2 separate regions of the Homo sapiens genome follow, and region 1 is linked to region 2. The links come from fine-mapping of genetic effects on gene expression. A gene starts in region 2. The other region holds a variant in brackets. All regions are shown on one strand. Distances are from middle to middle.

The links. PIP is the estimated chance that this variant, and not a neighbour inherited with it, causes the effect.
Region 1: its variant is fine-mapped to the expression of RGS17 in thyroid (GTEx, PIP above 0.99).

What each region holds. Positions count from the first base shown.
Region 1 is chr6:153,221,863-153,237,967 of GRCh38, reverse strand. No RefSeq gene overlaps it. Among named protein-coding and RNA genes, the nearest start is that of RGS17, 99 kb to the right of the region's middle. The variant A/G (reference allele first, on the strand shown) is at 7,445.
Region 2 is chr6:153,122,718-153,138,822 of GRCh38, reverse strand. It overlaps RGS17 (regulator of G protein signaling 17), which reads left to right and starts at 7,541. Exons shown (of 5, transcript NM_012419.5): 1 at 7,541-7,699. RefSeq lists a silencer at 7,610-7,659.

The DNA of each region.
Region 1 (16,105 bases), 99 kb before region 2:
AAATGAAGAGAGGGAGATTCTTTCAGGGAAAGAATTTGTTTTTCTTCATGCTTTTGTTGGTTTGATTGTTTTGATAAAGTACAAGACATATTTCACCTGTCAGCAATTTTCCTGGGGCACGGAAGCAGTCAGGTAGAGATATAAGACCATCAAATTCCCCTAACAAACCAGTTACAAATGTGTGCTTGAGACAGATTTGTGCTTTGGGAAACACGGAACAAACACATTTTCTTCTACTCCTCCTGCTAAGTACAACTATATAGTACAACTACTCCTCCTGCTAAGTACAACTAAGTAAAACTGGACATTATGTTTAAAGCAAACACAAGAAGACTCTCAAAGATGTAGAGAGGAAGATGGACAGGACAAGAATCTCAGGATCCAAGAGATGACAGAGTTGTGAGCTCTGTAGATTTTCTTTCAGCTTCATATATCCCAGATGTAGAGCTGATGAAAAGCGATCTGGAAACACAAACAGGTGCAAAGAAAAAACACACTGGAAAAATCTCTGCTTTCTCTAACCACAGGACCAGGAAAAGGGCAGCCTAGCAAGACAGAAAATTTTTGGACAATGATGAAAAAAATATTTTGCATCCCCCCTATGCTGGCAAAGACCAAGTAAAAAGCTGAGATGTCCGTCCTTAAGAAGCTATGAAGAGGGGCCTCAACACCTTTGCCGGATCAGTGCCAGAGAAAACCAAGCAGTGAGCCAGGACTTTCTACCCTGCTGGCCGGAGATAAGGCCCTCTCCATGGTGTCACTACAGACCACGTGGGAAGCCTAAACTTCCATTCCCACTGGGGATATTGAGGCTCCTCCTTGCTAGGGTAGCATCAGAAGAGGCCTCATGGAAAGTAAGAACTATAACCATTGTCCAGTGGTAACTAGACTGCCCCTACCACGTGTCAGCAGAGACCACATGGGAAGGTGGAATATCCATTCCTATCCATTCCCCCATTTAATAGTAATGAGGAGCACCCCCGACTCTGGGGAAAATCCAAAGGAAATCAATGTGACAAAGAACTGGTTCTTTGAAAAGATCAATAAAATTGGCAACTCTCTAGCAAATCTGGCAAAAAAAAGAAAAAGAAGACACAAATGATCAATACCTGGAATGAAACAGGAAGCATCACTACAGATTATGGAGACATCAGAAGAATAGGAAGGAGACAGTACAAACAAGTAGACACACATACATTTCACATCTTAGACAAGATTCCTCAAAAATATTAGCACAATTCACCCAATAATTTAAAAATTTATATGGAAAGGCAAAGAAACTAGAATAGCTAAAATGATTTTTCAAAGAATTAGGAGCTTTCCATGCTTAATAAATATGTTTTCAGTATTCACTGTGTCTCTGGCACTATTCTAGTACTAAAGTTATAACTTTAATAATATATGGAAAAATGTTTGAAGTTTACACTCTACTGAAGGAAATAATCAGTGAAACGTGAACATGTAAAGCACAGGTGGCAATAAGTTCTATGACCTGAAGAAGGAAAGGGTAAAGAAAACAAATAAGTTCTGTGAAGATGAATAAAGCAGATGAGGGGATAGAGAAGGAAGTCTTCCTATATAAGATGATCAGGAAAGGTCTCACTGAGAAAGGCTGAGCAAAGACTGAAAGATCACAAAGTAATCAGCTGCCTGGGTGTCTAGGGAAGATATGTTTTGGAGAAGGGGAGCTCCCTAGCAGTGATGGGAGGCTAGAGTGTGCTGGATATAGGAGCATGCAAGGAAACCAGTGTTGGTATAGTGGAGAGAATGAGGAAGAAAGGAGAAGATATTGTCAGGGCGTGCTCAGAGATCTCGCCATACCTTGTAGGTGACTGTGAGAACTTTGGATTTTACTCTGATGGAGATGGGAAGCCATTTGAGAGTTTCATGCTGAGGATCTGAGTGACCCGATTTTGGTGTAAAAAAAAAAGGAGCATTATGTAGTGATTAGAATGTAAGACAATAAGGGCAAATTCTTTTTTTTTTTTTTTTTGAGACACAGTCTCCCACTGTCACCAAGCTGGAGTGCAGTGGCACGATCTCAGCTCACTGTAACCTCCGCCTCTCAGGTTCAAGTGATTCTCCTGCTCCGCCTCCCGAATAGCTGAGATTACAGGTGGGCACCACCATGCCCAGCTAATTTTTGGTATTTTTGTGTTTTTAGTAGAGACGGTTTCACTATGTTGGCCAGGCTGGTCTCAAACGCCTGACCTCGTGACCAACTCGCCTCGGTCTCCCAAAGAGGAAAATTCAAAATTATTTTCTTACGGGATAAATCCAATAATAAAGAGATTACAAATCTTAACCTTTTTAACTATATTTTTTCTGACTTCAGATGCTAAGACTGATACTATTTTTTCTCCTGGTTAATAAGTACTCAAAACTCATTAATAAGATAGTATTAATTAACCAAAACCCTAAGGATTAACGGTTTTAAGTGTTGTGTGCTAACCAAAAAAAAAAAAAAAACGCAACTGGAGAATATAATAAATTAAATGAACTTTAATTAGAATATAATATGTTAAAGTTTGCAAATTAATCAAAATTGATAAAGGACACACTAAGTACATTTTAACATAGATGAGTAAAATGCAAAATATGATTTAATATCAGTATATTACTTAACTTGTGTAAATTATAATAATCTGACTTGTTACTTTTTAGTGGAAGTGTCTTCCAGATACTTCTACAAGCAACTTATATATGTACAGGTACATATACAAAATGAGTACATGTACTCATTTTGTAAGAGTAAGGGTACTCTTACTCTTATAAGTAAGAGTAAGATGAGTATGAGTACTCTTTTCATAATCATAAAATGAGTATGTGTACTCATTTTATAATTTTAAGTTGCTTGTGGAAGTATCTGGAAGGCAGCATAGTGGGTTGAGATGAACTTATGTAGTATATATCATGACCCCATTCTTTAAATGTGTTAAACAGGTAGGCAAAACATGCACTCTATCCCAACTGTAGGCTTCATTCTGACCCTGCTCTGGGGATGTTATAGTTCTAACATGTTTGATTCTGTATGCAAGCTGTCACTGAAGAGCTTCACTAAAAGTCGTTAACTAAAGTCAAAAGGAATGCAGTTGTATCATCTCTTATAAAAGATTATTGGAGATGTGATGATAATTTTAGCTTTATTTATCGTCAACTTTTCATCAATATATGTATTTGTTTCAGACTTATCAGAGTTACAAAATCGGATGCTAGACTGAGCAATTCCAAACTACCCAGGAGGTGGAAGGTCCAGTTTCTTTCTCCTTTTCTTTCTTTCTTCCTTTATTCCTTCCTTCCTTCCTTCTTTCTTTCTTTCTTTCTTTTTTCTTTTTCTTTCTTCCTTTCTTCCTCTCTCTCTCCCTCTCTCTCTCTCTCTCTCCCTCCCTTCCTTCCTTTTCTTTTCCCTCCCTCCCTCCCTCCCTTCCTTCCTTCCTTTTCTTTCTTCCCTCCCTTCCTCCCTCCTTCCCTCCCTCCCTCCTTCCTTTCTTTCTTTCCCTCTCTCTCTCTCTCTTTCTTTTTTTTGAGACAGAGTTTTGCTCTCATTGCCCAGGCTGGAGTGCAATGGCACAATCTCAGCTCACCACAACCTCTGCCTCCCAGGTTCAAGTGATCCTCCTACCTCAGCCTCCCTAGTAGCTGGCACTACAGGCATGCACCACCATGCCCAGCTAATTTTTTGTATTTTTAGTAGAGACGGGGTTCCTTTATGTTGGTCAGGATGGTCTCAAACTCCTGACCTCAGGTGATCCACCCACCTCAGCCTCCCAAAGTGCTGGGATTACAGGCGTGAGCCACTGCGCCCAGCCAGGAGCTCCAGTTTCTTTGCATTTCATCACAAATGTTTGTTGTTTTTCAAATTTGTACTGTGTGTTACATTATCCATTTTTTCTCAAGAATCCTTTTCTATTTAGTTAACATCCATTCTGACAGTCCAGTTGGGATTCTCGAATCACTTATTCAAACCAAGAAAAGAATCCTAAAATGCAGATATTCATGTCTTCTAAAATCGGGTTTATTAGCCTTTTACCTAAGTGGTAACTGCCATTTCAATTTCTTTCTTCACAACACCACATGTGCAAGTTTTACTTTCTGTTACCATGATTTTCTCAGAACTCACTATCTTCTAGAAGTTTTACCAACCAAACAACTCTCAGACACTTGTAACTGACCCCTTTGTCTTAGTACCAAAATCTAAAGATGTAGGTATACAGTTTGTGTTCATGTATAAAGGTTCTGATAAAGGTATAAAATATCAAGATATTCTACATCATAAAACCATTATATTGAAGAGTAATATAGACAAATAAAATATGATAAATGCATATTTGGGTACACTTTAGTTGGTCCTGAAGTTTTCTCTTGGCTTAGGAGAGTAAAATATATTCTCCATAATGTGTAGCCTCATAAAACTATTAAGCCATCTTGATTCAAACAAAAATTGCAATTGTGCTAATTTAATTTGATTATTGAAGCATATTACTTTCACATTTCTCTTTATATTTACAAGAATACCTACAAGTTGATAAGTTTGAAGCCATCTTGAAGATCTTGATCTTTTCAAAGTCTTGTCATAAGAAATTGTGCCCCCCGCCAAAAAAAAACAAGTCAACTAACAAAAAACAAATTAAGAATGCTTTTTTTCCTTCCTATCAGTGATGGTATAACGTTTTATCGAATATTATTTCCTGAAAATAGGTAAATTGTTAAGTGGTTATACAACATTTTCATTTTCAGAAAAAACTGAGGAATAAATTTGAAAATCTCTCTTCACTATCAAATCGCAAAATCACAATTGTGTTGTTTTAATCTTTTTTTTTTTTTTCCGAGACAGAGTCTTTCTCTGTCACCCAGTCTGGAGTGCAGTTACACAATCTTGGCCTCACTGCAACCTCGGTCTCCCGGTTTCAAGCAATTCTCCTGCCTCAGCCTCTCGAGTAGCTGGAATTACAGGCGCCCACCACCACATCTGGCTGATTTTTGTGTTTTGAGTAGAGATGAGGTTTCACCATGTTGGCCAGGCTGGTCTCGAACTCCTGACCTCAGGTGATCCACCCACCTCGGCCTCCCAAAGTGCCGGGATTACAGGTGTGAGCCACCGCACCACGACTGTTTTAATCTTAACAAAAGTTAACTGCTGTGCTGTCATCACATATGTTCTCTACAAAATTTGCAGAAGCATGCATTGTACTGTATTGCATTGCATTGCATTGTATTGTATTGTATTGTATTGTATTGTATTGTATTGTATTGTATTGTATTGTCTAACAGTAATTTTTCCTATTAATTGTTTTCCTCATTTTTTTCTGTTATAAATTGTGGGAACAGGAGAGATTGTGAAATTTTAAGTGTTTTTTGTATAAATGATGATAGATGTGAATAAATTCATACACAATAAGTTTAGAAGTCATAGGTACCTATTACTTCACATCATTCCTTAGGTGTAGGTTTCTTTTGAGGTTCTCAGCTATTATATTTCTTAAAGAAGAAATAAATTCTTGTTTAAGAATAAATAACCTATTTTTAGTTTTAAAGTCATCAATTTATGGTTTTTTCATTTTCTCTTATTTTGTCTAATGAATAGAAAATATAATTGTAGTATATTTTGAAATTTGGTTTTTATTTTCTTCATTAAAAACCTTTTTTTCTGAGAATGTCCAATATAATATGGCCATTAAGAAGCAAATTCATTCCTAGGTGTTCACAACTAACAGTTAAACAAATCGGTATTCATAACGACAACTCCATTGCTGCTATCAAGTGATTTTCATTGTTATGAAACCATATGATCTCAGAATTTTAGAAAACCTCAGAGAACAGAGACCCCAGCTCTCCTGAGAGCCCCAGCATAGCCCATCAACATCAACAATTGGTAGTCACCAAGCTCTGTCAATGACAGGGCCTCATTGAATGGCAGAAGCAAAAAATCTATGATACTGCTGACTACTTCATAGATGTTTTAACATAATTTGAAACTGAAGTGCTCTGTTGTGTGTATACTGCCTTACTAGCAAATATATCTTAAAAAAAGAAAAATTTTATGGAATTATGCCCAGCTTTGCAACTGCTTTCCATCACATTTTCTATCTATAACACAGCCACTGCTGTGTTAGATCTCTCATTCTATATTCTAACTCAAGAAGCAGCAAGTATATCTGCTTTTCTTAAAAACTTTTGCATTGACTATAACATGCAATCTCAAAATTTACCATTTACTATTTCATCGTTTTGAAAGGCAATAGCATCAGGGAAAAAGAAGAAAACTAGTTCTTATATTTTTCTGGGTTTTCAAAAATCAAGTTTGCTTCTTCACTACACTCCCACCATGCACCCTTCTAGTTCTTTCTAAATTATCCCTGAGCCTTTGCCTGAGGGTCTTTACTTCCTGTAACTTCCCTAATTTTCCTTACTAGTGATTAATTTAGACGGATATAGCCAGTTATTTCTTTGCTCACACTCAGGCACCTAACCACTGATTTTTGCCAACAAGAACAAGAGACAAAGGGTAATGAAATGCATTCTTGAGCTCACCTGTGAAGAGTTCCCTCTCCTGTACAGAAGGAAAACAGAGTATATCCTGTATTTAAACATGAGCTAAAATAAACTGTAGTTACAGTTTGCCCTTCTCTGCCCATCCCTCAGTTTAGCAATATGTACAGAACACGCGTTGTGCGTAGAACGAAGTGTGAACATCACCTCGACTGGCAGGCAGGCAACTAACTGCAGTGTTTTAGCGCCGTCTGGTGTTGGCGCCTAGAAACGCAGCTGGCATAATTTATACCACATTTAGCATGTGACAGGTACTGATCTTTCTGCGATTTTCAAGGAATTCTCTGTTGTAATCACCAAACGCAACTGAATGTGAAAACATATATATTAATTGTTGAAAGAAAGCAAAGTCTCACAATAGCCTTTTACCCTCTGCATCATTTTATTTCTATTCAATGTCCCTATTATTTATCTGAGGAAAAGATTTTGAACAAAAACAGTATACAGCATACTCTTTCCAAAAATATACTAATTAAGGAAATATAGAGAGTACCCTCAATTTGTTTAAAATTTCTTTTACATTTCAGGGTGTTTAGGGGAATGTTAACCTTAAACAACAAAGAGATTAAAGTGATCAGATTTGCTTCATTCATTTTTTTAAAAAAATATTTTTCTATGGTGCAACTCTTATTTCACAGATAAGAAAATTACACTCAGAAAATTAGCTTTAAAATAAAAGTAGTTTGGTTTGTCTTTCACATGATTTTAAGTGTCTGCTGAGCATTTATATACCATGAAAAGGGATAAGAAGAAATAGCCAAAACTAAGTTAATGCTAGAAGAACGAAGCAGTCTGAACTTACATAAGAGCAAAGTAAACATCTCACAGAGCAGTGAGGGTCCATTTAGCAAATGAGTTTTTCCAGTGAACTAAGGAGTAGTCTTATAAACCTCTA[A/G]AAGTGAATCATTTGTCCACCCTTCTCATGTATCTTTGGACCATATCCATGTCAAAATTAAAGTTGTACACATGGAGGAAGATACAAATTACAAGCAAACCACTTTCTCCTGAAACATGTTAAAACATTTTATGCCCTCCATGATGTAAAAACTACCCAAGCCAACATGCTACAGAAGGAAAATAATTAAAGGCATTGTCAAGAATCTAATTGTTAATGAATTTGAGAAATATGATCAATTTTAATATCCCTAGTCATTATATCCTATTTCACAAGCTCGACAACTTTCATTACCATGTAAGATAGGCATAATAATGATAAAATACTGACTACTGTGCTAGAGAAGATCATTCTTAACTTTCTGTAATGAGCAGTTTGAATTTAAATTGAATTTTTTTTTAAATTCCAAGGTTAGAAAACTAACACTGCTTAAATTGAAAGGTAAAATGTCACATTTGTTTAGCTTTTAATCAAGTAAAGCGCAAAGAAATTATAACCAATTCTTTCTTTATTTAAAACAATGTAAGGCATGGTTACTTTTAAGACGTAACCATTTTCTTAAAGTAATGACACCTTATATTAAGTTCCAACTCCAGATGGTACTTGGATATGGGAATCCTTATACATAATCATGGCAGAAGGGGGCAAGGCCCTTGGAGCCATGTGCAAGATACTGTCCTATGTTCTGAGTGCCCTCTCGCCCTTGCAACACAATGGCATTTTCCTTTCTGCTTGCTGGTGCCTGCTGACACCCACTTCTGAAGTCAAGAGTTGGTGAATCTAGTGGTCTGTTCTTTTCAGTAAGCTCAGAGCATAGTGTCCCCTTCCTGACTCAGCCCACCATGATCTTGGCCATATTCTCAGTGTGGCTTCTGTCTAGGCCCTGAACCTTTGTTTCTGTCCTAAGGTCACACTGCCCCTTTCTGTAGAAGCCCAATAATAGGTCTGAAATTTCCAAACTCATCTTCTTTCCCTACCCCCCTGGGAATTTCTAAATGCCTTCTGGGCCACATGGGAGCTTAGACAGAACATGCATGGAGGAGCTCAACTTCTGCTCTTTTTCTGTCTGAATGCACTATCACCACTTCTCAATTACTATGGCTGCACTATTGCACACTGCGAAGTGATCTCCCCCCGCAAATCCCTAAATGTGAAACTAAGTATAGCCCTTTAATATCAGCTGTATGGATTTCCTTCACTCTTCTGTTTTTCCCATGAAAGATGTCTACATTCTCTTCCTGAGGGATAACAACTTCCCGTACATCAGAACCTTCTCCTACCTCAGAATCATTCACACACACACACACACACACACACACACACACAGACACCCCAGCCTATTCTTCACTAGCACTAAAAATAGTGGAAAGAGTGCAAGAGGAGGAATCAGACTACCAGGAAGAGAAAAACATCCAGAGTTAATTCAAAAATGTCTATTCAAATAAAAGTATTTCCTTGACACTCCTACTTATATGTGTTAGATAAGACTCTCCAGATAAAGGGAGTTATAATGAACACTTTCCCTTTTCCATTATCTGATTTCTTTTATTGTTTAATTTCTTGTAAATGTATTCAAAATCCCACCTACAGTTATATACATATGAGTGAAAATACAAGGCCATTACTTAGGCCCTTTTCAAACAAATACTCTCTAAACAGTTGGTTCAACCTCCATTTTTTGTTGGCATACTGAACCCAGCTAGAATATGTCTAGCATATTCTTTATGTCCAAAATAAAGGACTGATCATGTTTAGTGATAGAACATTGCATTTTTACTTATTTGGAATTCTGTTTTACTTCAAAGTCTTCTTCATTCATTACCAGATAACATTAGTCACTAGTATTTACTGGGCATCTAGATACTTTACTTGGATATACTAAAAGTGGCTTTTTTCACTACATCAATTTCATGAACTATGCCGTATCTCAGGAGGTATATTTAGATGGTAAAGTACAGTTCACTTCCATGTTACCATACTACCTCCTGCATTATTCCAGTTTAGAAGGAAACAGATGGTAAAAAGAAACTTCAAACTTCAAGAGGCTTCAGTTGGCTGGTCTTGTGGTCAAATACGAGGTCTAAGTTGCCCCTTATAGTATTCACCTCTACCTCCAACAAAAATCAACAAGACATACGTTAGGAGAAACAAGACATGGTGTCCTATTTTGTGCTCAAATCTATAGCCGATGTTGCAAGAAGCAGGATCATTTTACTTTTCATCAGTTACCTAAGGCCATAAGTGAAAGTCTGGCTTAACTGGCACTATATTTTTGTCAAGTTTAGTGTCATCTATAGATTGGCTCTCTGTGGTCCTTGGACCTGCAGCCTTTAATCGGGCTGTACCTGGGTAACTAGATTACTTTTTGTCTACTAGGTAGTTTCTCTGGCTCTAGTCCAATTCCCCTCCAATACATACTCAAACAACTTCCAGAGTGATTTCTCTAAAATAAAAATATGGTCATGACAGATCAAATTCCTTTAGCTTTCAAAATAGAGTTAAAAACTCTCATATTGGTTCATAAGGCTCTTCATTTCCAAGTCTTCATTTTCAGTTACACTTGAATTTGGTCATCGCTCTCATCCTTGCTATTCAAAGTCCCTGGAACAGCAGAATCTAGATCTCTGAACTAGAATCTACATTTTAACAAATCCTTAAGTCATTCTTAGGCACATTAAAGTTTGAAAAGCACTGGTATATAAAATATTAATATATTAACTATTTGCATGTGTTTCAGACCAATAAAAAACTCAAAGGAGTACTGTTTTAAAAGTGGTTCATTTACTGGCAGCAAAATACATATACATCTGTAAATTTTTCTTTGTCCATAAAATCTCAAAACATTAGCAAGACATTGATCATGAAAATGAACTTCACTAACCTGTCATATTTTAGAAAGGAATTTGAGATGTATATTCCCAGGGATCTTGCTTTTTCAAAGAACCACGTGGTAGGTGCCAGAAATGCACTCACGCCTGCAGTTTAAGAGGGGCAGTATCAAGGGCTCTCGTCCCCAGCATATTGCAAAACCCTACTAAACGCAAACTCCTACTGTTCTTAAACCAATCAGGGATTTGTGGGAAAGGCTCTGATGAGGATATGAACATTCCTCTAATATAAGCAAGACCATATTAATCTCAAACCTGAAAACAGAATCTACACCTGCAAAAATTATTTCACTTCTGCCTATTTCCAAAACATAATTGAGTAAAGCCCTATTTTTATTATTATCTTAATATTTTACTTGTATAGGTTTTTGGGATAATTTTTGACATTTATGTTGTTGAATTTAAAACAAATCTGTGTATTTAGGACTAATTTATTTTAGCTCATGGTACTTTTTTGGTTGAAAGATAGATAACGTTGGTTGAAAGATAGATGGAAAGTCCTGGCTGCGAGTTGTTCAGGTTCTTGGCTTGTTGAACGAAAAATTAAACAAAATGCACAAACAAAGCAACAAAGAGCGAAGCAAGGAAAGCACAGATTTATTGAAGCAAAAGTACACTCTACAGAGTGGGAATGGGCTACAGCAAGCAGTTCAAGGGCCCTGATTGCACTGTTCTTTGGGGTTTTTATTAGACTAAAATAATTTGGTAACACCCTTAGGTACCTTTTAGAGGCCTCCAATTGGTTACACCCTATGCAAATAAAGGCTTGGTCCATGACCGATCAGAGGCTGAAGTGAAGGCTTGGCCCAGACCAATCAGAGGCATTTCCTGTTTCTGACATGGGGGGAAGGGGTTTTGTAGAGGGAAGGGCCTCTGACCTCTTGTCACTTGGGCATCGAGAGGTAGGGTTTTCCTCTCAGTCCAATTCCAAGAAGTCAGCTGCAGGTTTGCCTTAGGCTCCCTGTCTCCAGACCCCATTCTCCTACCTCAATAACATCCTAGAAATCTAAAAAAATAGTTTGATAAGTGAGTAATATATAAATAAAAGCCAAGTGCATATGCCTAACTTGTTACAATTTGCTATTTATGAAATCATTAAAATGCATATTATAAAAATGTCCAGCATTTTAAATTAGCTAGGAAGAATATTAATTTTTGCTTGTACTTTTCTTAATATTTTTATTTCATAAATTTCTATTACTAAACTCAACATAAAAAGTATGAAAGTCAGATGTTTTACTACATATTTTCCTACATATTATGTTTTGAAATCTCAAAAATCAAATAAAATCACATTCTCTTGGGTTCTTTTCCTTTCAATTTATCATCATATATAAACAGGATTAAAAATTACTCTTTTATAACTTCTAAACATTTATTCTCTAAATAACCTAGAGAGTAAATAAAATGTCATAAGAAATCTTTACACATTAGGAAATTGGTCCAACACCTCATAAGTACTTACTTGGCACATGGTATTCTCTCAAGAAAGCATGAAAAAAGAGATTTTAATTGAAATTTAACAGATAAAATATTTGTGTTGATCATATTAGCATACATCATCTGAAAAAGTAGTGTTGTAGACATACATTTTTATTATTAAAATGTATTTTAAGTCTAGGCACGGTGCCTCACACCTGTAATCCCAGCACTTTGAGAGGCCAAGGTGAGCGATTCCCTTGATCTCAGGAGTACGAGACCAGCCTGGGCAACATATCAAAACTCCGTCTCTACAAAAAAGACAAAATTTATCCCAGGATGGTGGTGTATGGCACATGCCTGTAGTCCCAGCTACACAGAAGGCTGAGGTGGAAGGACCATTGCTTGAGCCCGGGAGGCAGAAGCGGAGGTTGCAGTGAGGTGAAATCATAAAACTGCACTCCGCCCTGTCTCAAAAGAAAAAGGTATTTTAAACGTTTTGTCTTCTTTTTAAATAGCTTATTTGTCCTTTAAATGGATTTGAAACCATATATATATATATATATATATATATATATATATATATATATATAAATGCCTTAGATAAATTTATATTATAATCTCACCTACAGCTTAGTAATTTTGATGTATTTCTTGTTTAGTTTAAACACCTCTTCTTTTAATATCTTTCAGTAATTCTTTTTATCGAAAAGGTAATAGCAGACATTCAGAACTAAGAAAATGTATACCATGAACATGCTCTCACCAAAAAAAAAACTGAAAAAAAATGAGATTAATTTGCCTATATATTAATAGAAACTTCTTTAGCCATCTGGGGTTTACTTTTGTGGGATAAGACTAAGACAAGCTAAGTTTTATTATTTTTATAAGAAATATTTTGTATTCTCTTTTTTTTCCTGCTCAAATGCCCTTCTGCTTAATTGGAGGTTCCCAAACTTCCTCGGTTCGTGGCACCCTTAAATAATTTAATATTACTTAATAACCACGCTTAAACTATTCAATAACCACAATTACACATTAATGAAAGCATATGTGCCTACTGATCACAGCCATAACTTCTCAAATCTTGAAATCAGATTGAACACCTCCAGCCTCATTTCTTGTTACACATCGATTTTCATATAGGATGTGCTTTTTTATCAAAACACCCATCAAAAATCCAGTTTCGCAAAAACGTGACATCATAGAAAGAAATGAAGTACAATCAAATTTATGAACTACCTTAAGCTAATTTACACATATACAAAAGATGTCCTGTATTCCTCTGTTTCTCTCAAAAACTGAAAATATCCCATTGTGTCAGTTTATGGTAATACCCCCAGACATCTTGGCACACAGTTTGGGAACCACAAGATTCTTTTCTTAATCTTGAAATTGTATAATACTATCAGGCTACATGAAAGTATTGGTCTCTTATAATTAAATATGTTTGCTTATAAGGATCCATTTTTATTTGTAATATTTGTGGTTTAAACGAATCCTTTAAGTCCTTTAAAATTTTTTTGTTATATTTTTCCTATAAAAAATATACCCAATACCTATAAGTTGAATCCCTATTCTCTGTCTCCCAAGTCTTACATCTCCCTGCTCCCTTCTGTCAATTGGTTTTTATTTTTCTCCACATTCTGAAAAAGATTCTGAAGTTATGATTCTTCAGTATAGTCTATTTTTTTTTTTTTCCAGGCAGAATCCTGCTCTGTTGCCTAGGCTGGAGTACAGTGGTGCAATCTCTGCTCACTGCAACCTCCACCTCCTGGATTCAAGCAATTCTTCTGCCTCAGCCTCCCAAGTAGCTGGGACTACAGGCATGTGCCACAACGCTCAGCTAATTTTTGTATTTTTAGTAGAGACGGGGTTTCACCGTGTTGGCCAGGCTGATCTTGAACTCCTGACCTCAGGTGATCCGCCCACCTCGGCCTCCCAAAGTGCTGGGATTACAGGCATGAGCCACCACACCCAGACTCCATATTAGTCTTTTAACTTTCTCCAGTTTCAGTTCTGCCTGTCACTGCTTGAGGTGTGTATTGGTCTACTAGGGCTGTATCGTATTAAAATGCTGGGGGGACCTAAACAACAGAAGTTTATTTTCTCACAGTTCTGGAGGCTGAAGTCCAAGATCAAACTGCTGGCAGGGTTGGTTTCTGGTGCAGCCTCTCTCCTCGGCTTGTAGACACCACCTTCTCTCTGTGTCCTCCCATGGCCTCTCTTCTGTGTGTGCTCACTCCTGGTATCTCTTCCTATTCTTACAAGGACACCAGTCTTTTGGATTAGGATCCACCCTATGACCTCATTCAAGGGGGCCTTTATTACCTCCTTCAAGACACTATCCCTAAATACAGTCATATCTGAGGTTAGAGCCTCAACATATGAACTTTGGGGTCACACAATTCCGTGCATGACAAGGTGTATATGGAAACTCTGTAAGTGTATTAATTTAAACACATCTTTTTCACTTCACTCACTTTTCTGTTAATTTTGTATATGCCTCTTAGCTCCTCTTTCATCTTTTTGTTTTATCTTGTCTTTTGTTTCTCATGCCACATAGTTTATATTTTTCTGAATTTAGTTGATAGAAAAAAGGCCATCTTCTAAATGTTTTCTACAGGATATCCCTTCTCTGCTATAATCTTTATCTTTTACGTTACAGGATGTCTCCATCTGACCCACTCTGTTGGTTTTCCTGCTGCTCTCATCTGTTGATTTATCTTTCTGTAAGTAGAAAACTACTGTGACACCGTTTCTAGTTTTTGTTTATAAACAACATCAAAGTTCTGTGAATTATCCATGGCTGCCTTCACTGTATAGCTGGTTGCTTTCAGAGTCCTCTTTCTTTGGGTGGAAGCCTCATTGATGTGCATTGACTGACTCTAATGAAACTTTCAGCACTTTGCAATCTCTTATTGAGTGTCGAACTGCAAGACTGAGAAGGGACTTAGCAGTTTCCATTACTTGGTCATCTGATTATGATAATTGGAGTTTATTTCTGAAGTTAAAAATAGTCCACTTATCTTTCTTCCCAAAAAAGTATATATGGAAGAAAAAAAACCCAGAATGCACCACTTTTGTGAGTTTTCTAAGGCTATCCCATTATATCTATTGATTTTATATTGAATGTAAAGTAATTTATTCTAAGCACTTCTGTCAATAGCTACCTTGTGTCAATGGAAACTGAAGTTCCAGAATCTGTTCATCACACAAGTATTAATGGAGGAATAAGGGTAATGAATACCTATGGCTCGCTGCTTAAGAGAAACAGTTTCTCTTGTTCAGGAATATAAAAGCTTTGTCTGTAGTCTACCTGAGCAATAGATACAGATGTTTGGATGACCTAGGAACTTGCCAGTGGCTTCAGATCCACAGACTTTAAGATTGATCATATAATTATACTCTCTGTTTAATATTAAAAAGATGAATATTAAATTGTCCCTATGTCAGTATAAAAATCATTAACTTACAAGCGCTCCCAGCCTTCCTTTGCCCTACCCTCATACAGGATCTTCTAAGTTGTCCCATTTGGTTCTCTTTTCTACCCACTCTGCTTTATGGAGGACCTTTCTTATTAGACCTGGTGTTTTGGCTTTTGTGAGAAAGAATTGGAGGAAGGCAAGAGGGTATGAGGAAAATGTGAGATTCACAAAGGTTACAGAAAAATTGTGGCCTGGAGAATGATGGGCATGGGAGCAGCTTTGGGGTGAGTCAGGTGGACGGAAAAGGAAATTCAGGGAGGTTTTAAGGCCTGTTGAGGACCAAGTGTTCCCATTATTGTATGATTTTGAAATTACTCTTGCTTTCCAGGACGTTTCCCTTTCAACAGTGGGGTTGAGTCACCCAGGTCAGCATTTCCAAGTGTTATATTTGATGGTGGTAATGGGAGTTAAAGCCAAGGTTTGAAGCCAAGATTTAAAGCCAAGGTGTCATACCCAGCTGGATTTCAGATTTAAATTACCAGCCTCAATCTGAGCTGCTTATGTATTTGCACCAAGTCTTCCTAAATTCTGAAGAAAGGAAGAAAGGGAAAATCTGGGCCCCGCATGAGCAGGGATGGTTTTGGGCCACCACCAGACAATAAAAGGGCGTGTGTGGAGACCACATTAAAGTTGGAATTTCAGTTTAGGGGAATGCATGGTTTGGTCCTGGATGTTCCAGGCAGAAAACCAAATTTGTGCAATGTTATCCCAGTTAACTCAATTGAGAAAATGTTTTAAGCTTCCTTGGAAATGCCAGGCATTTGACTCTTAAGTGGACACCAAATTTCTTACAAAGATGCCAGACCTATTGTCTTAGCTGGTACAAAGCTTCCACCTGGCTCCACCTAATGCAAACAGCCTTATGG
Region 2 (16,105 bases):
TCTATTGTGTGTTGTGTGTATGTGGTGTGTGTGTGTGTGTCTGTGTGTGTGTGAGAGAGAGAGAGAGAGAGAATTTGTGTGTATTTAGAAGGCATTGTGCCTTTTTTTGATCAAGGGGCTTTTCAGAGATGTTAATATGCCAATGTATGTATCAAATCCTAAGAAATGAATTTAGAAGTCAACTTTTTATTACCCAAGCTTATTCACCAAGTGAATACATTGTTCTCAAAGTACTAATTTTGGAGGGAAAACAACAGTGTGGGGGTTCTTCAAGAACTATGGCCCTGATACTTGTGAATCCCCTTTTTCCAAATTATTTGACTCTCTTGACTAAAACAGATATTTGAAATACTAGGCAAATCTGACTACAACAATTAAACATTGTCATGTTCTCTAGATAAGATAATTTTGCTTTATTTTCCAAGGAAGACTGTTATCCAACAATATGATAGATATGATAGGTTTGCTGAATGGGAATATGCAGGGTCCATCTAAAGAATACTTTTATGAAGTATTTAGGGTGACCCCAAACCAACTCTACATTGTCAAGCCATTGTGGGAATATTGTGGGAATATATGATATACAAAATTGGGCATAAATGATTTTTAAAATCCCATAAAGATGTTTATATCTATTTCTAGGGACTCACTCAATTACCTTGAGATATAAATTTACTAGCACTATTCTGAAAGAGTAATAGTGAGCCTTTTAACTTCAAAGTTGGTAAGTTAAACAAAGGAACATTAATAGCTAATGATTTATTCAAAATTAAGTACAGGCCGGGCACAGTGGCTCACATCTATAATCCCAGCACTTTCAGAGGCTGAGGTGGGCAGAACACCTGAAGTCAGGAATTCGAGACCTGCCTGACCAACGTGGAGAAACCGTGTCTCCACAAAAATACAAAATTAGCCAGGCGTGGTGGTGCACTCCTGTAATCCCAGCTACTCGGGAGGCTGAGGCAGAATTGCTTGAACCCGGGAGGCAGACGTTGCAGTGAGCCAAGATCGTGCCATTGCACTCCAGCCTGGGCAACAAGAGTGAAACTACTTCTCAAAAAAAAAAAAAAAAAGTAAAAGAAAAAACAGAAAAACATAATTAAGTACATTACATAGAAAATATAAAATTCTATATTTCATTTTTTAGCTTTTGGGGAACAGACTATCTTTCCTTTTTCTCTTTTCTCTTCTCTTCTTTGAATACTGATGAAGAAACACAAGTATTTCCCATCTAAATAAGTTCCCTGGGATGAACCTGTCTCAATGGTTTGATTAAAATCAGTTGGAGAAACATGTTTAGCTCTATTTACTAAAAGTATAGAAGAAGTCTGCTGAAGCAGTCATGTTCTAATTATCCTTCCACATTCCACTCTGGAGAAGTTTGCCTGGCTGGAGCAGTCAGGGTTTTCTAGATTCAAGCAAACAATTAATTTCCTTTCCCTCTGCTTTTCAAAGGAAAAACAGCTTCTTTTAAATAAATAAGCATGTAGGAAAAGAGAATGAAATTTTAAAATGCTACATAGTTTCTTCCTGGAAATACTTTTGTAGGGTACCAAACTCACTGAGGTAATTTCCAGCTCTCCTAATAATGACAAATATTCCTAATTATGGATAAATGTACACTAAATACTTTGATGTTGATAGTCTGCACTTTTGCAATATTTTCTGTCTGCAAATATCTTCTCTGCAAATCTCCTTCGTGCCTTACTGTAAAGCCATTATACCTAAACTGCTGCTGTGTCCAGAATTTCTCTACTTGAAAAAAAAACACATTCATTATGGTAGGGAAATGCTCATGATCAAATGCTCCTTTTCATAATTACCACATAGCTGTTTAATGATGACTGGCCCAGTGAGCTCTGAAATTCTGTATAAAGAGAAGGCATCCCCATTGCCAAAATGAACTGAAATCCATTTCTGAGTCCTGTAGGATAATTTTATATAACATTTACATTTTTTGCAAAAAATTTGAAGACATAATACTAGGCATATAGTAGATATTAATGAAGTTTACTGAATTGAATTATTGATCTGGTCATCACTTGATGTCAGTGGGGTTGCAGATAACTCCCTAGACCAAGTGTCCTGGTCTGTTTCGTGTTGCTGCAACAGAATACCTGAGACTGAGTAATCGGGTTTATTTAGGTCACAGTTCCACAGGCTGGGAAATTCAAGGGCCTGGCCCTGCCTTCCACTGAGGGCTTCTAGGCTGCATCACAACAGGGCAAAGAAGGTCAAAGGGGAAGTGGACACATGCAAAGAGACAAGGCCTGAGGAGCATCCTGGTTTTGTAAGAATCTCCCCTCTAGGGAACTTGTTTATTCCCATGAGAACTTTTCCAGTCTCCTCCAAGTGAGAATTCACTCACTACCTGGAGAACTGCACCAAGCCATTCATGAGGGATCCACCGTCAGCACCCAAACACCTCCTGCTAGGCCCCACTTCCCAACACCACCAAGTTGGGGATCAAATTTCAATACGAGTTTTGGAGGGAACAAACTCAAACCATACCACCAAGATATACACAGGGACTGCAAGTGATCAGACTCCACAAGGTGAATGTCATTAAAGCTGTGGTTGTTTCCACCCATCTAGTCAACTCTCAGATGGTAGGCAACATTTTCAGTCCTAGAATACTATTATTACAGATTCTGGCTCATGCATAAGGGATTACACAAAAAACTACAACCATGAAAGAAAGTCACCAAGGGGTTACATTTGGCTTAAGCAATTAAATGAATAGCAGAATAGCCAAGTTGTCATATAAAAATTGCCCAAATAGCCATTATAAGAATTTATGGAAGGGTCCCTTTTTTATTGAATATGCTTGTTTTAAAAGTGGGTTCTGGGAACCTTACCCTATCATCTAGTTTAAAGGAGCACCCCTGCATGCAGCCATGTGTGGTGAGCTAGGCAGAGGAAACAGTGTAGTCTATCATGGCACCATCTGTGATAGGTTGGGCAGAGGAAACAACGTGGTCTATCTGTTCACTTCTGAAAAGCAACAGATTCTGAAAGGCGGCAATTAGGATCCAAGAAGAAGCATCAGCAAACAATAAAGAACACTTTTTCTAAGTTTGTTATTTTTTCAATCCATCCTTCATTCACTAAGCATATACTATGTGTCAAATCTTGTTCTGGGCACTAGAGATAAAACACTGAAAAGTGAAAGCAAAGCTCTTGAGATTCTTTACTTTAGCAGGGGCTGAGGAGAATGAATAAGCAAACAAATGAATCCAAGCTGATTCAGATAGTGAAGTGTTTTAAAGACAATGAAATAAGGGGATCCAACAGAAAAGAACTCGCTGGGGCAGATTAGATTGGGTGGTCAGATGAAGCCTTCTGAAAAGTGATATTTCCGGAGGCACTTATGTGATATTAAGGAGTCTGCTATGCAAAGATCTGGTGCACAGGATTCCCAACAGAAAGAACAGCAAATATTACAAGTTAGATTTCTTCAAGAAACCCAAATAAGCAGGTCTACATGGCTAAAACACACTAGCTATGATCTACAGAAGCGTGGTATAAGATAACTAGTTAGGGACAATACTATATAGAACCTTCCAGGCTGTCTTAAGAATTACAAATTGTGTTTGAAGTGCAATGAAAAAAAAAACTCATTTGAGCGTGTTAAGAAAGGGTATGACACAACCTGATTGTTTTTATTTATTTTTTATTTTTATATTTTTTGAGACAGAGTCTCACTCAGTCGCCCAGGCTGGAGTGCCGTGGCGCCATCTCGGCTCACTGCAAACTCCGCCTCCCGGGTTCACGCCATGTTCCTGCCTCAACCTCCCGAGTAGCTGCGACTATAGGCGCCCGCCACCATGCCCGCCTAATTTTTTGTATGAGTAGAGACAGGGTTTCACTGTATTAGCCAGGATGGTCTCGATCTCCTGACCTCGTGATCCACCTGCCTTGGCCTCCCAAAGTACTGGGATTACAGGCGTGAGCCACCGCGCCCGGCCTCTGATTGTTTTTAAAAGATCCTTCAGCTCTTAGTGTGTCCGGAATTGGTGGGTTCTTGGTCTCACTGACTTCAAGAATGAAGCCACGGACCCTCACGGTGAGTGTTACAGCTCTTAAGGTAGCGCGTCTGGAGTTTGTTCCTTCTGATGTTCGGATGTGTTCGGAGTTTCTTCCTTCTGGGGGGTTCGTGGTCTTGCTGGCTCAGGAGTGAAGCTGCAGACCTTCGCGGTGAGTGTTACAGCTCTTAAGTCAGCGCGTCTGGAGTTGTTCGTTCCTCCGGGTGGGCTCGTGGTCTCGCTGGTTTCAGGAGTGAAGCTGCAGACCTTCGCGGTGAGTGTTACAGCTCATAAAATCAGCGTGGACCCAAAGAGTGAGCAAGTAGCAAGATTTATTGCAAAGAGCAAAAGAACAAAGCTTCCACAGTGTGGAAGCAGACCGGAGTGGATTACCACTGCTGGCTCCAGCAGCCTGCTTTTCTCCTCTTATCTGGCCCCACCCTCATCCTGCTGATTGGTAGAGCCGAGTGGTCTGTTTTGACAGGGCGCTGATTGGTGCGTTTACAATCCCTTAGCTAGACACAAAGGTTCTCCAAGGCCCCACCAGAGTAGCTAGATACAGAGTGTCAATTGGTGCATTCACAAACCCTGAGCTAGACACAGGGTGCTGATTGGTGTGTTTACAAACCTTGAGCTAGATACAGAGCGCCGATTGGTGTATTACAATCCCTGAGCTAGACATAAAGGTTCTCCACGTCCCCAGCAGACTCAGGAGCCCAGCTGGCTTCACCCAGTGGATCCCGTACTGGGGCTGCAGGTGGAGCTGCCTGCCAGTCCCGCGCCCTGCGCCTACACTCCTCAACCCCTGGGTGGTCGATGGGACTGGGTGCCGTGGAGCAGGGGGTGGCGCTCGTCGGGGAGGCTCCGGCCGCAGGGGAGCCCATGGAGGGGGTGGGAGGCTCAGGCATGGCAGGCTGCAGATCCCGAGCCCTGCCCCGCGGGAAGGCAGCTAAGGCCCGGTGAGAAATCGAGCGCAGCGCCGGTGGGCTGGCACTGCTGGGTGACCCAGTACACCCTCCGCAGCCGCTGGCCCGGGTGCTAAACCCCTCATTGCCCGGGGTCGGCAGGGCCTGCCGGCTGCTCCGAGTGCGGGGCCCGCCAAGCCCACGCCCACCCGGAACTCCAGCTGGCCCGCAAGCGCCGCGCGCAGCCCCGGTTCCCGCTCGCGCCTCCCCCTCCACACCTCCTTGCAAGCTGAGGGAGCCGGCTCTGGCCTTGGCCAGCCCAGAAAGGGGCTCCCACAGTGCAGCGGTGGGCTGAAGGGCTCCTCAAGTGCCGCCAAAGCGGGAGTCCAGGCAGAGGAGGCGCCCAGAGCGAGCGAGGGCTGTGAGGACTGCCGGCACGCTGTCACCTCTCATTAGGAGGGTGTTGTTCGGGGTTGTGGAGGATAGAAATGAGCAGACAGAATAGGGGCTTTTGTGGTTGCCCAGGTGAGAGATGACAATAGCTTGGACTAAGGTTATGGCAGTAGAGAGGGAGCAAAGTAGATACCTTGGAAATATATTTTGGAGGTGAAGAAAACATGACTAATTAATTGAGTGCGGGGATGAAAGAAAGCAACAAAACGAGGATGACTTCTAAATTTTTGGAATGAACAACAGAGTAGAACAATTTGAGGAGGAACAGGTTTGGAGGGGGTGGATATCCGGAGTTCCGCTTCTGAGATGCCTGTTAACCATGATAATAATAGTATCTACCTTGTAGGGTTGTTGTGAACAACGAATACGAAATATGAGGAGAATTTAGATCTGTACCTAGCATGTAGTAATTGTTCAATAAATACCAGCTACGACAATTATTCCTCAAGTGGAGATGTAAAGGTAGTGAAGGACATAAGAGTTCTGTGTGAGGCCAGGACAGGACTGAAGACATAAATCTGAAAGTTATATAGGATTCAACGCTGCTCAAATCATTTTTGGTGAAGAACTTTTATCTTTATCCACCGCGAATCAATACTGCAGTGGACTAGCCGTGTTTGTCTCTCCAAAATTCGTATGTTCGCATTCTAACCCTCAAGATGATGATATAAAGAGGTGGAACCCTTGGAAGGTGGTTAGGTCATGAGGGTGGAGCCCTCATGAATGGGACTAGTGTCCTTATAAAAGAGACCCCAGAGAGCTCCCTTGCTCACTTCCACCACGTGAAGACACAGCAAGGAGTCAGCAGTTCATGAGCTCGGAATTGGGCCCTCACCAAATAAGGTATCTGCCTACATCTTGATCTTGGACTTCCCAGTCTCCAGAACTGTAAGAAATCAGTTTCTGTTGTTTATAAGCCATCCAGTCTATGGTATTTTGTTATAGCAGCCTGGAAGACAAAGACAAATACTTCTGTGAAATCCAACAAAAATGAAGACACTTTGAAGAGCACTAGTACTCAAAGCCATGGGAGGCCCTGGAGGAGGCCCTGAGACATATTTAACCCAAGTACCCGTGAGTCTATGAGGATGGAGGCACAGGAGAGTTCAGTAGGCTGAAATAACACAACGCTTGCTTACATGAACACACAAGGAAGGGGAACTCACACAGATTTACAAGTAATCTGTTTTAATTAGGTGTAAGAAAAAAAAGCCCATTCACTCCTGCAGGAACTCCCTCCTCTTCCCACAGATGTGGTATCTGAAGAGCAAGACACTGCTTCTCCACTTCCTCCGCACAAACACTTTAGTCTAATCATTGGAGATGCAATCTAGCGCTCGGGTTGCATTAAGTATCCCAAGCTCCTTCCCTACCAAGCTGGGCTCCACTTGGGCACAGAACGATTATCAGACCTGGTAACTACCAAGCTGTCCCCTAAGGATGCTCTAGGCCCCAAGCATCAGCACCTCCGTTAATAATTCTCCACTCTTGCCTTGTCATCGGCTTTTCTCACTCAAAACTCTGCTCCAGCGAGTGGTCCGGGCGCCTGAGGCAGCTGGCATGGGCTAGGCCAGAGAGCACCTGCACTGATTCTTAGGAGAAAAGGTCCTCTTTCTGGGCGAGGAAGTCAATAAAGTAAAGGACGCTTCATAAAGTCCTTCGGGAAGCAAAACTTGCTTAACTTCACACTTCCTTGAACCCCCACGCAGGGAATGCTTCCTCCGGGACCCGGAGCAGGCAGGCTGCTGTGCCTGGCAGGCCGGCTCCTGGGTGCAAGGCTCCCGCGCAGCCCAGGACAGCAGCGCGCGGGCTACGGGCGAGTGGAGTTGCAGGGGCCCGGGCGGAGAGCCGCTGTCACCCAGGGAAGCTCTCGGGACTCCGGGCCTCCCGCGAAGCTCCGGACGGGCGTCACCGAAGCCGAGAGTCCCGGCCGAGCCCCTCCGCACGGTGGGCGCCGCGCCCAGGCGAGCGCGCGAGGTCGGGCGGGGCCGGGGGCCGCCCGGGGAGGGGGCGGGGCCGGGACTCTCGCGGCCGCGCGCAGGGGCTGGGAAGCTGCCCCTCCGGCCGCGCCGGGCGAGGGGCTGCGCCGGCCCGCGAGGCGCATGCGCGCTGCCGAGCGGCTCTCGCTCCCTCCCCGCCCACCGCTCCCTCCTCCCCCTCCCCCTCCTCTGCATCCTCGCCGCTCTCCCTCTCTCCTCGCCCGCTGGGTGCTGAAGTTGGGCGGATGGCAGCAAACCGGCTCCGCTAGAGGACCGAGCCGCCCAGCCCCGCTCCCCCGGACCCATCGGCGCGCTGCCCACACCTCCAGGCGACCGGGTAAGACGCTGCCTCCAAAACAAGCGGTGCTAAGTAAATGACATCAAAATGTCTGCTTTGCACCAATGGATGGATTTTTTTCAAGGTAGGGGGGAGGTGAAGGAAGGAGGGGGCGGAGAGCGCGACCGCCCATGCCCCGGCGGGGGCGGCTGCGCGGCGCTGGGGTCTCAGCTGTGGCCGCGGCGCCCTGAGCGGGAGCGGGGGCCGCGCCGCGGGTCCGGGAAGTTGAATCCCGCGTCGCTGCCTGGACGCGGTCCGCTCGCCGCCCTCAGCTGCTGCAGGGAACCGGGCGAGTGTCCTGCCCGCCGGGGAACGCTCGGCCAGGTCCCAGAGTTCCCGCGGAGAGCGGGGCGCCTGCTGGGGGCGGCCGGGAGGGCCGGGCCAGGGGCGCGGGAGACCCCGCGGGGACGCGAGGTGTTGCGGGTTTTGTGCGGTTGGTTGGGAACGAGGAGAATGTGCCATCAACAGTGTCCAATCGACTGATCACCTTGGGTGCTGTGTTTCCTCCCTTATCTCTCTTTACCTTTGGGAAAATGCACTGCTCAGGTGGGGAAGGTGTTCGAAGAAGAGGTTGCGAAAATGAATCCTTTGACCAGCAGTAAAATACCGGAGGGGTGTGTGTGTGTGTGTGTGTGTGTGTATGTGTATGTATGTATAGGGGGTGGGGGGTCTCTTTTGTTCCTTCCCCTCCCCTTAGTCAAAGGAAAGGGAGTCCTGGCGTGTGCGGCGCGGGGTGGATTCCACAGCCACCGAGGGGGCGAGGACGAGGAACGCCCACCAACCGCGAGTCGCTGCCCGGGTGGGCGCATCGGAGCCTCCTTTGCTGTAGGTGATGGTGGTCTTTCCGTGATCGATGGAATCATAGTTTAATCTCTGCCTCCCCGCCAGCCTCCCTGCTGTCCCTCATCGAGTGCTGCGGCAGAGGCTGGGTGCAGACACGGCCGCTTTCTCCTCTTCTCTCTGCCTCCCTGTCTCCCTGAATAAATGCCGGAGGACTAGGGGATGGCGGAGGGACAGAGCTGGACTCGGAAGCCGCGGGTGGGAGCTGCTCCTCGCGAGCCCGAGGCTGCTGGCACCTTGTCGCGGGCAGCCCGCGCCAGCCTCGGGAGTCCCTGGGCTCCGGGAGAGCGAGCCGGGGTCGCCTGGCCACAAAGATGCCCGCGCGCCCGCCCTGCGTACGGGACCCGCCCTGCGCCCTGAGCCCTGCGCCTCGCCCGGAGCCCGGGACGTCGGTTCACGTGGGAGAACCCCTGTCGCCCGGGGACGATTGACCCTGGCTCCTGGCATAACTCTCCTGACCTCCCCTGACCTTTCCATAAATGCTTCTTTCAAAAGATTCACTATAAGATTTGTCTGGAGAACTTCACACTCTTCAGAGTTATTTCTTTCTTTTCTTAAATTGTTTTACGGCGAGATTCTCTCCAGCGTGGGATGGCTTTCACAAATAATAAAGAGAAATCTTAGTTTGGTTCCCATCTAGAATAAGCAGTTCTGAGGCTGGGTGCCATCTGCATTTCCGGCGTTCATACATACTGGTTTTCCGGGTGATGAACCCTTCTGAAAATCATTTAATTGAAGACGTGAGAATTGATTTTTATTAGTGTAGTGGAAAATAATGCTTTCCTCCTCGATTCACAACTGCCAGACGCTGCGTGTACGAAATAATTTGCAAACCGTGAAACATTTAAAGTACATTGTACTTGTTTCCGAAGTCTTCTGTAGTGAGAGTATTATCCAAGAAATATGCATTATAGCACTCCTATCTAATGGAAGGGTGATTTAATACAAATGAATGAGAAGTTTGACCTCCTCCAGTTGTTACTGTTGTTAAGCCATTTCTTCTGTTAACATGAACTAAAACAGTAATTAGCACACTCATGGGAGACTGGATTTATTCACTAGTTTTTATAGTCTTTTGAAACCCGCACTTAGAGCCACCATAGGAGAGTAGTTTATTTAGTTTGAGGTAACAAGAAAAGAAGTGTTCGTTATTACAAAAAGATTGAGTGGTATTACTTATTAAATAAGATAAATCTCCATGGCAATGACACGTGATCTCAGAGCCAGGGGCACTCATCCTTCCTCCTGAAATTAGTCTGAACGATTAAGAAAACCGTCGAATTTACAGAACAAATAACATAAGGTGTCTGTTATGCTGATTGATTTCGACCCTTTTTGCTATAGTTCCGCAACTACTCCTTGGCGTTTAGTCCCCACGGAAGGGAATTAACAAGGAGAGTTAATTTACTATCCTGTTCATTCTAAGGCAAACAGCATTTCCTTCTCAAATAGGTATCTCTTTGGTTGTAGGGCTCTTCCTCTGAGGTACTTATTTATTTGAATTCATCATGTTTAAGGTCTAAGTTCCTTATTCCTGTGACCATTTTATACTTTTGCATAATAATAAATAATAATAATAATAAACCTTCCTTAACATTTCCTACCACGAGGGCCACGGTCTTTGAAGAAAAGGAGAAATATATATTCTTACCCGTTTGATCTTACTGTAACAGCCAAGTAAAAGTGAAAATTTTAAATCTGAATTGATCAAAATTCTGGTTGACTTGCAGAGTAAAGTCTAAGAAAGATTTTACCTTTTAATCTAAAGCCGTAGAGATAATGGCCTTTGTGTCAGAAGTCCGTTTGCTAAAATACATGGGCTTTCCTGGAAAAGGAAGGTAGGCATGGATGATGAGGTACGATGCCAAGAGGGCTGGGAGTCCATTCAACCACATTTCTGCTGAGAATCCTGTTTCTGATACTCTCCAACTCTGCTTACTTAACACTGAGAATACTGCACTACCAAAGAGGGCAAATCGAAGGACCGCTATATACCCAGAGGTTGAGAATAATGCTATGTGATGTTAAAAGCATTTTATTTCACCTGATTGGTATAGTTAGAGTGTAAGTGTGAATGCATTGTGGAGGCGTAAAATTATATGACATTTCCAAGGGAGTGTCAAGGGTCCTCAGACAAATATATTTTTATGGAAAACCTTAAAATAATCCTTTGCTATAGGTAGCCAATAGGTAGCCAAGACTTTCAGTGTGAGATTGATGGATACTCCCACCTTCCTTCTCTCCCTACCCACACTTATCTCTGAAAAAAAGACACTTTCCTAACTTCCAAAGAAATTCATTTAGACGATCATTCCTGCTATTGTGCCAGCACCTGGCACAGTATGTGGCAAAGGCAGGTGTAAAATAATTTTTCCTAAATTAATAAATTTTGCAGGGTCGACATGGCTCGCAAAAGTCTTCCAAGGTAAGAATTGCATTTTTAAAATCAGCACTTACACTGTTTACCAAGTACACTAGTTGGGCTCCTAAAACTCGTGTTTATGGTCCTACATCTTTGGAGGAAGCAATTTTCAGAATTGTCGTTTTGGGAATATATATGTGTTTAATACAACATTTATATTACTGATTTGTTTCCCAATTATAAAAGCTCTATATTTGCTTATCTTAGATCCCCTACGATACAAAATTACCTATAGGCAGATATGGATGTGAAGAGCATGAATTTTGGGTCAAGCTGGCTTTAGCTTGTATTGTGGCTCCTCCCTTTAAAAACTTTATTGCTGTAGGCAAGTTACTAATCTGTCCTGAGCCTCAGTTTCCTCAGACATACAAGAGGGATGAAGGCAGGATGCAAGCATAAATACAATGCAATGTATATAAAGTACTGAACATAGTGCTTGGCATGTACTGAGTGCTTATAATTATCTCAATACCTAAAGAACTGCTATTGAAAACACAGCATGGTTTACCACAAGTTTATTTGCTTTATATAAACGTACCATTGTTTTAAGAATTTGAATCATATTCTAGAACAGGGGTCCCCAACCCCTGAGCTGCAGACGGGTACCAGCCCATGACTTGTTGGGAAGCCAGCAGCACAGCAGGAGGTGAGTGGCTGGTAAGTGAGCATTACCTCCTGAGCTCCTCCTCCTGTCTGATCAGCGGCTGGCATTAGATTCTCATAGGAGCGTGACCCCTATTGTGAGCTGCGCATGCAAGGAATTGAGGTTGTGCACTCCTTATGAGAATCTAATGCCTGATGAGCTGACGTGGAACAGTTTCATTCCAGAACTATTCCCCCACCCCCACTGCCATCCGTGGAAAAATTGTCTTCCATGAAACCGGTCCCTGGTGCCAAAAAGGTTGGGATGGCTGTTTTAGAACTTCATATTTCTAAAAAAATTAACATTCCTTTGTTGCTGTTTCTCAAGAAATTAAAATTGATATTTTTAATGCGATTTAGTGATATAGTTCACCTTATGAATGTCTTTATTTAGCCATTCTTTTATCTTTGGATTTTGATCCTCATGCCTAAATTTTGTATGCGTATCTCTATTGCAGTTTCTCCTTTGGGCACGATGCTTAGAACAGCTAGTTCTTGCCAACATAATGCCATTCTTTAAAAAATCTTTGCTAACTTGATAGGTGAAAATAATATTTTTCAAACTTTTATTTCTTTGGCTACCAATAAGACTGATTACTTTTTGACATACTGATAAGCAGTTTTTGTCTTTGAGGATGGCTCGTTCAAGTCTTTAGCCTGTGTTTCCACTGCTGTTCTGGTACATTTTTCTTATTTGTTTGAGTGCTAATATTAATTTTTTAAAAGGCAGAAGCAAACAAGGAAAGGAAATGCTCAGTGACAAAGATCACTGTGGCTAAACCAGAAAAGCTGGATCAGCCAGGGCATTGGGGTTCATCATATACTGCTACACCCCTGAGTTTTCCAACCTTTACACTTCTTTTTAGAAGTCCGGAATCAGTAAACAATTTGCTCACAAACACCTTACTATGAGAAGCTTGTGTCTGAAGAGTTCCCAGATAGTCGTGGATTGTTTCTGCCAGTTGCCAATGTTATGGAAGAACTTCTGAGTTTTTCTGAGATAAAGGGGTTGAAAGGAAAGATGGGAGTACATAGAGATCATAGGGACATTCATTTGATTTCTCATCAGAATGAGTCAGTTAAGCTAAATTATAAAACCATGTCAGGTTAGAATCATACCTTACTTCAACTACTAAGCTCTAGGTGAAATTTACACATGTTAAAAGTAAGAATTTAATGTGTTACCTTAACGAGCTCTGTATCTGCAATGTTTCACATGATTCAGTGGTCTTGTAAGCTCCTGTTTTTGACTTTTTAAGTTCTATAACTTTTGACAAATTTGGTTTCAAAAGTTTAATTATCTAGCTTGGAAAATCTATAAAGTCCTTAGGTATTAAACTATCTAGAAAGTATAAATGTTTTTGTTTTGTTTTTTGAGGCAGGGTCTCACTCTGTCACCCAGGCTGGAGTGCAGTGGCTCAGTCATGGCTCACTGTAGCCTCAACCTCCCTGGGCTCAGGTGATCTTGCCACCTCAGGAGCTGGGACTACAGGTGTGTACCACGACGCCCAGCTAATTTTTGTATTATTTGTAGAGTCGGGGTTTTGCTTGTCTTGAACTCCTGGGCTCAAGCAATCCACCCACCTCAGCCTCCCAAAGTGCTGGATTACAGGCGTGAGCCACTGCGCCCAGCTGAAAGTGTAAAATTTTATAATCATCAGTGGTACCAGTTTATCAAATACAGTAAAACCTGAGTAATTCAGAATTTATAATGATGGGAGGTCCCTATAGGAGAAGCAATGACCTATGGTGGAAAATAAAATCTATTTCAAATAGAAATGGATTTGAATTTTTACTCTACTATTTATTAGATATGCAGGCTTTTTCATGAAATTATAGAAGTATTTTATACTTAGTATTCTAGCATGATTAATAAATATCTAAAATCACTGAATTTCTTAAGCTTTGTATGTGAGATTTTTAAAAATTCCCTGTGTCAGTAAATATAATTCTATTGTAGTCAATGATTGTGGTTCACAAAGCAAATATTTACTTCCTTATCTTGGGTCACAGGCTTTTCACAGTACAGTACTGCTGATTGGCTGTTGAAATACACAGGTTATAATTCAAGAGCCATGGCATTACAGTAAAACAGACACAACCTGGGGGAAATTATGACATAAATGGAATGAGCAGGTGAGTGTTTATTTCATTTTAAAAATTTTCTTGAATCTTCCCAATAATATAGTGAGTTAAATCCAGTGAAGTCTCTTGTGAAAGTTGTCACTTTCTCTATTTTCCAGTCTCTATGAAAGGTGGGAGCCTGTTATTTTGGTGTATTTATGATAAGTCATGTAATCTACAGATTTTATGAGTCAGTTTTGGCTCTTGGTAGACGACCCTATGTCCACGTCCTATTACCCTAAACTCTCCTATTTTTTCAGGATTTGATTAATCAAACTCAACAAATATTTGAAAGTTTGCTATTTGAAACACAGCAATCCATATTATTTAATTCACATGAAGTAAAAAAGCTTATGGAAAATTGCCCTTAAAAGAAGGAGACTTTAAAAGCAGAGAATGTAATTTGGTGGAAAGAGCCCAGGTTTTAGATTCAAATAACCAGGGATTTAGCCTTCACTTCTTTGAGCCTTAGTATCATTATCTGTAAAACTGAAGACAATTTAAAAATGTTAAAGGATTAAAAGAAATTATGTCTATAAAATCTTTCATATATTGGTACTCAGTATGGAAGTGTTAGGTATTGTATTAGACTTAATAAATCAAAATAGGTACAAGAAACATCATGTAAACAATAAGGGCTTGAAGGGGTTTTAATTTCGTGCCAGTATTTGTCTTAACTAATTGGTCCTTATTAATGTTTAGGTTGTTCTCCATGTATTTCGTGTGTTATCCTTTCCTGACTAGTTTGTTTCACCAACCTGCTTACAAACATATTTGAGCACCCACTATGTGCTAGGCTGTGTGATATTTTTGGATACAAAGATTAATTAAACGTGGCCCCTTTCCACAAGGAGTTCACATATAAGCTTCTTCAAGTTATTTTTCTTTTATCTAGTGAGTACTGGTCATTCTAAGCTTTGAAGTCATAGCTAAATACAACATGGGAGTAATAGGCAATGATTTCCTTAGGGTTTAGCAATAGACCAATTGATCTCAAAATTTAGGAGCCTCTACAACTAATGTTCAAGCAAGCTGCTAAGCAGAGACTCAGAGATAAGGGGAAGAAAAGCAGGAAGTGGCTCTGTTGGTGGATGATTTAACAACCTCCACCATAGTATCAGAACAACAACAGACTGGAGGCTTAACCCTCTTTGTGAACCGACCTCAACACCCAATTCCTTCTCATTGAAATAAAGAAAATGTGTACATACATCTGTACTATGCCTTTTCCCCTCTCACTTGTAGGCTACCCTGCGTAATCATTGTAATGTAAGATATTCTAAAACGCTGGTGTAGGGGATGAACAAAAGGGAAGGAGAGTGAGATCCCTGCCCTTCTTCCGGGTCCACATTTCCCATGCACTAGCAATATTTTAGAATTTTTTCCTGATACTGCTGCAGTTCCATCTTTGATTACAATCTGTTTATAATATAGTACCTTGACCAAAACCCCAGAATCCTCAGTTTGGATGAAGAATAAATACATTTAAGTTTGAGAAAGAAAACCATCTCCAATATCAACTTGTTAAAATCACTAGGGCAATTTCTAAATCTAGCAGTTAGATTTGCTCCGATCTGGAAAGATTTTGTATGATTTATAAGATCAGAGTGAAGACTTCAAACCCGTTCTAGAAATATGTGATGAATAGATAGTTAATATATCTAAGTATGGAAATGAAAGACATTGACATTAGGAATGAATTAACTTGAAGGTAAGCTCAGCACTCCTGTCAGCCACTACATTTAACATTCTTGTCATTAAATCTTTGACCGGGCTCTTAATAAGTAAAAATGTATGCTAATGTAAGATTTGAACCTATTTCTTTCTCAATTTATTGCCACTCAGCACTACCATACAGTAATTTACCTGTGACCTATGAGTTTAGTATGATCAAAATTCACTAGATAAAAGCAAAGGAAAACTAGTGTCTTTTATTAGGGCACTAAGGCATAGACATGCTATAAAGCAATACAATGACCTATATAATTTACAAACTATTATGATTAACTGAATGCCGTGTTGTGAATTGGAGTATTAAATACTCCAATTTACTCCAGTGTACATTGGAGTATTAAATACTCCAATGTACTCTGATGTACTCCAATGTACTCCAATGTACATTGGAGTATTAAATACTCCAATTTACTCCAATGTACATTGGAGTAAAAGGCTTCATTGTGAATTGGAATACTAACATTTTCCCTACCTACTGTTTGGGTGAGGCTTGACATTTGATTTTCCCCACACTCTCTTATGATTATTATTGTTATTAGTATTTCTAAATAGATAAATTGAGGAGAAAGGAGCATCTTTGCTTTTCATACATCTAATAGTTCATAGAAAAATAGGTGTTTACTCATATTTTATGTAATTTTAGG